Regions from separate parts of the Homo sapiens genome. Here region 1 is linked to region 2. The links come from fine-mapping of genetic effects on gene expression. A gene starts in region 2. The other region holds a variant in brackets. All regions are shown on one strand. Distances are between the middles of the regions.

Region 1 (4,392 bases), 110 kb before region 2:
GCAGCCAGGAAAAGCCACCTGCCTTAAGGAGGCTATGGATCCATCCATCCCCACCAACCCCTGACCCTCCCTCCTCTCCTTTCACCTTCTGCCTCCGCCTGGTTGCTACAGGTCAGTGCTGGTGGAATTGATCGGAAGATGGGTACCAGAGAAGCTGGATTATCTCTGCCATCTCTAAGCAGAAGCCTAATCATTTAAAAAACCAACCAAGAAACCTCACCTTGTTCTTATGTGATAAGTACCAGCCAAGTCAGGATACTTTATATAACAGCTTATTTCAGAGGGTTTCCTTCAGCAAGCAAGTCAGGAATATTTTTTCCTAGTGTTTACTAACAGCTCCTAGTCATGCTCAAAATACTTGCCGGAAATTCTACTGAAATTAGACCCTCAAGAGTTTCAGAGAAAATGCAGCATGACATTATAAATGATAAATAATGTGAAATTAGACACCGCGGAGAACTGCATATTTGGCCGTTTCAAGTTCTAGGCCTCTTTCCTTTCCTCTCATAAGAGCCAGCTTATGTGGAGGTAGGCTGCCTGAAGGTTATACATTTTCAGTTTATAATATCTGCTCTTAACAATAAATATTATATTTCTATACAACTGCTCCATTGTTCCCCCCAACAAATCTCACTAGACAGTTCCCCTTGGCCAGCAAGAATTACTTTCAGAAGGAAATAATCCCCGCAACCTCAGTGATTTGTAAGTGGGTAAGACTCAGCCTAAGATGAAAACACACCAGTGATCCGAGTCTTCATTTTTAATTTCAGCATTCACTTGCAATAGGAGGAAAACCAAATTAATTTTCCACTTTACTTCATTGGCAAACTATTTCTCACTTTGCTGAAGGTTCGAGGCACGGTGATAAATGGTGAATAATAAGCTGCCGACGCGCACGGTGCATGGTTGGAGGCCCTGAGACTTCATCTTAATGGGCAGTCCTGTCCCACCACCAGGAAGCCTCGTCACTGTGTCCAGTCCTGACTCACAATGGCCTTCAGGGCCATTGGAGGGCATAGGTCTCAAACCAGAATGACCCCATGGGCATCATCGAAAATGTAACCCTACTAAGAGAGCCCCAGCACGGTGCTTCTTTAGTGACGGCAGAGGAACCAAAGCCATCCCCATGGAGACGCCTGCTCTTCTGTGCTAGAGGTCAGCAAACGTCTTCTGAAAGGGCCAGAGAGTCAATATCATAGGCTTTGCAGGCCATGCTGTCTCTGTTGCTGCTACTCAACTCTGCACCATGGTGTGAGACCTTCCCTGGATGATATGTCAACCAATGGGCGTGGATGCATTCCAACAGAATTTTATTTCTGGACATTGAAACGTGGATTTTGTATAATTTTTGCATGGCATAAAAGATTATGCTTCTTTTAATCCATTTTAAATGTAGAAAACATGCTTAGCTCAGAGGTCTTACAGAATCAGGGAACCTGATCTTCTAGGACAGTATCTATTCACCCTACAAAGCCTATGTTGGGAGTACATCCCTCTAGCTGTTTGGATGAAACCAAACTCTCACAGGTAATTTAAGACACAAGTACAATGCATCCCTCCACTTCCTGTCACTGGTTTTTACCACCTGCTCGCAAAGAGGTGGTCAGAGTGGACAAACAATTCAGTCACCATGTGCAGCCAAAGGTACCATAACAGCTGGAAAAAAATCAGGAGACTTCTGGAAGAATCTTTAGAAAGTACACCAAGAATATAATTCATAACCTGCCGCTGTTTCCAAAGTGTGGGCCCTCAACCTCTAATTAATCTTAATAGCACTGCTGACTGCTTCTGCTCTTGGTATCATGATGAAAATTCACCACACATTTCATTCAAGCACACGTGAGGCTTGAATACCTTAGAAGAGAGTGATTCCATGGAGATGAAATTGCAAAGCGGCAAGCTGGCTGAAATTCTGCAGCTCACAGAGGAGACTGTGGGTGTGAAATTGTAGGCAATTACATTTTATCACTGCTACACAAGTTTCTGCTGAATTCATTAAAATTTGCTCCCAGAATCGGGTTGGAGGACTGTGGAATTCCGATGACAAAAACGAAAGCAGATTTTCACTCTCCGTGCTGCAGGAGCCACAGAAAGTCCGCAGTGCAATGAGGTTTGGATGTGACTGAGAAATGTCATCTCCTGGAACTGCAGCTGCAAATTAAACAAGGGACTCTCTCACAGAAACAATGACTGCATTCCAAGCAGAGAGAATCAGGGAACAGAGAGGACAGGCAAACAGTGGACAG[T/A]TGTGTGCCTGACACAGAGGGAGCAGGCCCCTTTCCCCGGGCCCCGGGTGGCCTGCTGAGCGCCAGTCAACACCTCCAGACAGGAGCACAGGAAGAGAGGAGAGGTGTAAATTTGGAAGTTAAGTTAGAAAGAACCCCCCACTGAGAGATGAATTAGAGATGCAAAAGCTATGACCAGAAAGGTCTTCCTAATTAGAAAACTGAGGAAAGATCTTGGGCCTGACATGAAGCGTTCATTTTGGCTTCAGCACCTCAGCTGGAGAGTCCTGGGTGCCGCCCTCCCGCTGAAGTGCTGACAGCGTTCTCTCCCCTCTGCCCAAGTGGCGACAGGCTGCCCAGAGGCCACTGCAGGCCCAGCAGCTTCCTGCCGGCGTTAGTTTATCCAGAACCTCTATGAGCATGGCCCAGAGGGTCCCTAATGGAGGGAGAATGCGGCCCTCATCTCACTGCTGCGTGCACGTGCTAGCATCTGCCAACTTCCCACATCCAAACTGATTTGCCTAGCCACCCCCTGCCCTCCCTTACCCCCTGCCCTCCCTTAGACTGTATGGAAGCCAAGTCCAAAGGCTGGGCCTCTCCCTAGAGTGGACATCCACAACCAACACTCTGCCTTCTTCCCTCACCAAGACGAACCTGCTAACCACACAGGCAATGAGACATTCCTCTTAACAGAATCCCTCATTCCTGCAGATAGCATGAGACAGAACAGTCCCAGACAAGCCAGCTGGAAATCCAGTCTCCATTAATTGCTACCTGTGGCACCCTGGGTGGCCCAAGTGACCTTGCTGATATGCAGATTGTCCCACCTGTCAAACGGGCACAGAGCAATCTGCAGACGCTCAATGAGCAGTTCCTCTCCCTTCCCTGGGATAGGACTATTTTGGATTCTGAAGGCACAATCAGTTTTAATGGGCACCAGTTGTGTGGTTACAGACAATTCTCCTATAGCCTGCTGCTAAGAGGCCTATAACCCACCTGACAGTCAGCAATATCCAGGGAGCAGAGCCTGCCAGAGCTCCCCAACCAGGACAGTAAAACCATCAGGCGAGCCCCTTCTTTCACAATTTACCAAATGCACATAACCCCATCTGCCAACCTGAGGCTGCACTCGCACACAGCGCAGAGACCAAGATTCCCAGAGGAAGGGTGTCTGACTGAACTCACTTCTCCCAGCCACCGGCAGTGGCATGCTGCCACCCACTCTCATGGGCTGGGCGGAGGGACCCACGTACATTGCTTTCCATGGCTGTGCAGGTGACATCACACATGCACATGATGTCACATTGATGACTTGAAACCAGCCCCGGAGTATTTACACCACAGAAAGTGGCAAATGCTACAACTCGGGGCAAAATTCCCCACCCGCACTCCAGCTGGTTGTTGTTTAAAGTGACCAGCACATGCTGGGCACGTCCACTCACTGCCTTGGGCCCCAAGAGGGGAGTTCATTGGCACTGCAGTAGCGTGGGGCTAAAGAGGGGCCACTCGTCCACCGCACGCCTGCCACCCCCACCCTCACACCGCATCTGGCCTGTGACAGAATGAGCCTTGAGACCCCAGCTTTTACCCCCAAGATGCAGTGAAATAGATCCTGGGCAGCCCAGGCCAAGCCCTGCCTTAGCTTGATCAGGGTTTAACCAGAGCCATAAATGGCCACATGCAAAGCTCCTGTGGTCACTGGGTGTGCAGCGTGGGAAAGAAGGGCTCTGACCTCTGGAGCCTGTTTTTCTATCTATAACAAAAGGACAATCACAGTCAAATCCTTAGAGGGTTTGTGTGAGGATTCAAGGGGATTATTTGTGTGAAAATGTGTGGACCACCTGGTGGCCGTGAGCCCAATCCACATTGATGGCTGTGATAGAGGTGGCTATGATGAGCAAATATCCTGTCTGCCTGCTCAGCAAAGGGATCTGTGAGCACTAAACATAGGAACACAACCCATGGTATCCTGCCTCCAGCGTTTGCTCATTTGCCCACTGTGAAACTATTTGGTCCTGAGGCCAGAGGAATTGGCGGCGGCAGCTGATGGACATCCTGCACTCATTAACCAACACCGACCGAGGATCAGCCAGTAGCAGCCCTGCCTTCAAGTGGCTCACAGTCCTGTGCAGGGCCAGATGAGTAAAGGCCATGACCACGGAAGCTG
Region 2 (4,392 bases):
AGAAGGAGTCACTGGGCCAAGTCCAAAGGCAGAACCCAGAAGTGCTAATTGGGGTCTCTCAGCAGTTCAGCTTGGGAAATTGAGCAAGGAAGTTTCCTTCTTCCTAAATTTCCTAATCTAAATAATGCTGAGATGTCATGGTAGGAATAACATGAAGAATAGTTTAATGGATGAGGAATATTTTAAAATCGGAAATGTTTGCTACCAAAAGTCAAGAGCAGACCTTGAAGTTCAGAGGGACAGGGGGTGCAAATCCCATCTGATGGTTTTCAAACTTGGCCCGCCCTAGAGCTGAGGAGGCAGGCCCTTCCTGGACAACTTGGGGAGTCATGGACACAGTGAGGCCCATCCAGCCCATCAGACTGATTGTGGGTGGGGGCTTGGATCTGGCATTCATTTTAACATTAGTGGCTCGGTTGTTGGCTGTCAATAGTAGCAGCGTATTGGGCCCTGAAAAAAATGTAGCTGTGACTGTCATATATTTGAAGTTTTTTGTAACCTCCTAAAAAGGTGTACTTTTTTCATATTGTTTTAATCAGTGTGGCTATAGGAATCAGTGAAGTTTTATATACGAAGAAAACGAGAATGCCAGATCTACCATTTGCTACATAGGGTTTAAAATGAAGCTATGAACAATGCATAATAATGTAATTCAACAAGTTTTTCTCTCTCTGGAGGACTGGAAAATAACCTCAGTGAAAATTATGCAATGATAAAATTCTGTCCCCATCTGATTAATTACTTGTGAATAATGACATCTCTGATTTCTTTCAATTATATTCTAATTGCACACCTTTTGCTCCAGTTGATTGGGCAATGAAGTAATGAACAACTATTACTGAATTTAATTAGCACCATTATTTCTGTGGCCTTTACATCTCTGTTGTGAACATGGAAATTCACACTCCCAGGGCTGGAACTGGAAGAAGCCAGCCTTGAACCTTGAAAAACCTGTTCCTTCCACACTGTGCTGGCTTCCTTCTGCCCAGCCTGGGGAACAAAGACCTGGCGTATTTGCCAGTATTCATGGGAAGGCTTTCCTAATAACAGCATCAATATTCAGAAAGGTTACCTTTTCATAAGGCATTAGCAATTTGCATGTTACATCTATCAAAAGAGATGGGTAAATGAGCTATATGGGAGTCAATTACAATGTCGTTCATAATTTATTCCATGTACAATAAACAGCCGATCAGATTTCATGCGTGTTTACTTTCTGAAAAGATAACTGCTTGTGGCTGATACTAGTTGCAGAATACAAATATGTTTCAGAGTAATGTGTTTATCTCACTTTGACATTTTAAATCTCCAAAGTTCTCTCACTCTCTGTCTTTTTTTTTTTTTTTACAAAGTTGTCTCTGCTTGAAAATTAGAGCTTGCTCTCAAAAATAAAAGATCATTCTTACTGGCCTAACTTGAATCATTCTATTTTAACTCGATGAAGGCACGTCATACATATTCTCCTACAAAACGCAACAGGAAACAAGTAGGAATTTGCTTTTAAAGACAGGTGATTGCAAACATACAGAGCTAAGAATATTTAACTCACAGAAACATGCTGTAGTTTCTAAACATGGATACAAATTACCCAACTCAGTAGTCTTTGGAGCACCAATAAAGTTTGTAAATGCAGACATGTGTCATCGTAAATTAACTTCATCCGATATACTTTCCCCCTCCCCCATATTTCAAAAACTAAAATAAATTCAGAAATGAAGAAGGCTTTTCCAAATCCCTTAGGGAAGTCTACAAACACAAATGATTAATTTATTAGACCAGATAAAACACCTGAACTGTCTGATGAGCAACACGTCCATCTCTCTCTGAGTCAAGCGTGTACCCACTCACCCACCCAGGCTCAGCCATACCTCATATCTGCTGGCTGTCTGCTCAGCCGTCTTCAAGCCTTGACACATATGGATGATACAAACTTTGGCTCTTCTCTGGGAGGGAAACCAGTTACTCTTCACAAAATCCATGACCATCACATGGTTTTTCAACTCTGTACTAAATGTTTTTATCTGGAAAGTCCGATGCACGGCCGTTTCTGTGTAGCGGGCAGCATACCCCTGCGGATGAGTTTTTGTAGGAATTCCAGAGTGCTGCATGAGACTCAGTATCTTGTGACTTTAGCTAGTGAGACTGGCAAACACAATTTTCTTTGTTTAACCCAGGTATTGAGTGCAACAGGAGGGACTTGGGCAGTGCCCCAGCTCGGACCTGTCCCAGTGTTTTCCAACTCCAGAGCTAGTTGTCTCAATATCCCAGCTACATTTGTGAAGGATGTGGATGTGGGAACCTCAGGGGTGACCTTTACGTGCCAAAAAAAAAAAAAAAAAAAAAAAAACTTCTTGTTGTGGTCTGTTTCCAGCCTCACGCCTGAGCTCTCGGGTCACTCAAAGTCTTCTCTGATTTCAAAGAAGTATTTCTCTTTCCACTGCATTGAAGTTTTGAACACAGAATTCACCCAGTTACTGAGAGATTCAATATGTTTGTCAGTCTCTACCCCCTCAAATCCAAATAAATTATTTACAGGGCTCTGTACAAAGGAACTAGGAGGAATAATCGTTGCTTTTTAGAATTCCTGCTTTTACTTGCCAGGACTGAAAGGAACAAGTGCAGGCTGCCTACCAATACAAAGAGCGTCCTCAGCCCTGGAGAAGAAAACATTCAAGTGAAAAAGAGAACTCCCAGCGCAGAAGCAGCAACAGCTGCAAGAGGGCATCGGAAAAACAGCGCATCACGTGGGGGCTGGGGGTGGAGTCCACTCGCCTAGAAGGGGGCTCTGGTCCTGGGTCAACCATGGGAAGTTCCCTCACCACCCTGAGTCTCAGTTTACCAGGAGGAAGACTGGAAGGAAAATACCCCATCTGCCACTCACAGGGTTATTGTTAGGATCTGGTGAGCAAAACAGTGAAACAACAACACAGAATAGAGTCACGTTAGGCATCATTTTGAAAGTACAGTTGCGCGTTCTCTACCCAAATTATTTTGCACAGTGTTCGCTACACATATGATAACGGAGATTAACACAATGCTAATAATTATCAGATTCTAAATTTCAAGTCAATTAGAATTGCAGATCCATGGTATATGCCTCACTTTATTTAATGTTTTGATGCCATTTCTATTAACCTAGTAATTTAGAAGTGAAAATGGCAAGCCTTGGATCAAGGGTGTGTGCCAAGAGGAAGCAGATGACAGCATCGTGGCTGTGCTCCAAGTCCAGACACAGAACTCTTCTCCACAGGTGACTTTCTCTTGGCAGAGACACCCCCTTGAATAATTAACTCACCTGCCCCACATTGAAAGCCATGGGAGAGGCTAAAGGAAGAAGAGCCTCCAGATAACTTTCCTGAAAACAGAGCTGCAGTCCTAGCCCAGAACTGTGAGACTTCCTGCTGTGGGTCGAAGCTTTGCATGTCACACTCAGCAGGGCTAGGACTTGGGGGCTAAAATGCTGAACTTCCACCTTCGGAGCAATGGAAGTATTGAAGATGGGAACTACAATGAAGGAGGAGACAGAAAAGACTTTAGAGATCATTTAGGCCAACATTCTCATTTGAGTGTTAAAGTAGAAGACCTACAGAGACTAAATGCTGGCTCAAGATCACACAGTGAAGTGGAGTTCATGGTTCCTTAAACAGAACACAGCCCGGGTCTGCCTGGGGCTCTCCCAAGGATGTCAAAGAGAGTGTCAACACCCAACTGATGGCATCCATGGCTGACTCAAACCTGACAGTCATGCTGGAAACTCCCAGGGAGCTACACCATGGAGCGCCATCTTGGATTTGGAAGCAATGTGATAAAGAAAGCCATGGGAGACATTTGAGCAATAAAAACATGAAAATTGAACAGGGACACCAAGGAAAGAGGGGATCTGCTTCATGTTTGGGCACAGGGAAGGTCATTCCCTGTGTCCCCAAAAACGCCATTTAAACCAGCTCCCATTTGTGTCTATCTGCTCCTGTCCAGGAGACCCCGCAAGGCAGATAACAAATAATAAAGTCTTTTCTTCCACCACTACACACATTAAAGGACCTTGGACAATGCTGAGGCCAGCAGGACTGGTCATCAGCTACCCCGAGACCAGGACTGGTCATCAGCTACCCCGAGACCAGGACTGGTCATCAGCTACCCCGAGACCAGGACTGGTCATCAGCTACCCCGAGACCAGGACTGGTCATCAGCTACCCCGAGACCAGGACTGGTCATCAGCTACCCCGAGACCAGGACTGGTCATCAGCTACCCCGAGACCAGGACTGGTCATCAGCTACCCCGAGACCAGGACTGGTCATCAGCTACCCCGAGACCAGGACTGGTCATCAGCTACCCCGAGACCAGGACTGGTCATCAGCTACCCCGAGACCAGGACTGGTCATCAGCTACCC

Which allele goes with the higher level. Positions count from the first base shown, and alleles are read on the strand shown. Sizes are in standard deviations (SD) of each study's normalised expression.
In carriers of allele A in region 1, the expression in sigmoid colon of the gene that starts at base 2,321 in region 2 tends to be lower than with T alone (small effect, 0.25 SD a copy in GTEx).

The links.
Region 1: its variant is fine-mapped to the expression of C10orf90 in sigmoid colon (GTEx, PIP 0.98).

The regions. Positions count from the first base shown.
Region 1 is chr10:126,559,516-126,563,907 of GRCh38, forward strand. The region is part of intron 2 of C10orf90 (chromosome 10 open reading frame 90); the gene reads right to left. Among named protein-coding and RNA genes, the nearest start is that of C10orf90, 110 kb to the right of the region's middle. RefSeq lists an enhancer at 1,846-2,602. The variant T/A (reference allele first, on the strand shown) is at 2,247.
Region 2 is chr10:126,668,373-126,672,764 of GRCh38, forward strand. C10orf90 (chromosome 10 open reading frame 90) reads right to left here and starts at 2,321. Exons shown (of 10, transcript NM_001350921.2): 1 at 1,869-2,321. The coding sequence starts at 2,108. RefSeq lists a silencer at 4,347-4,392.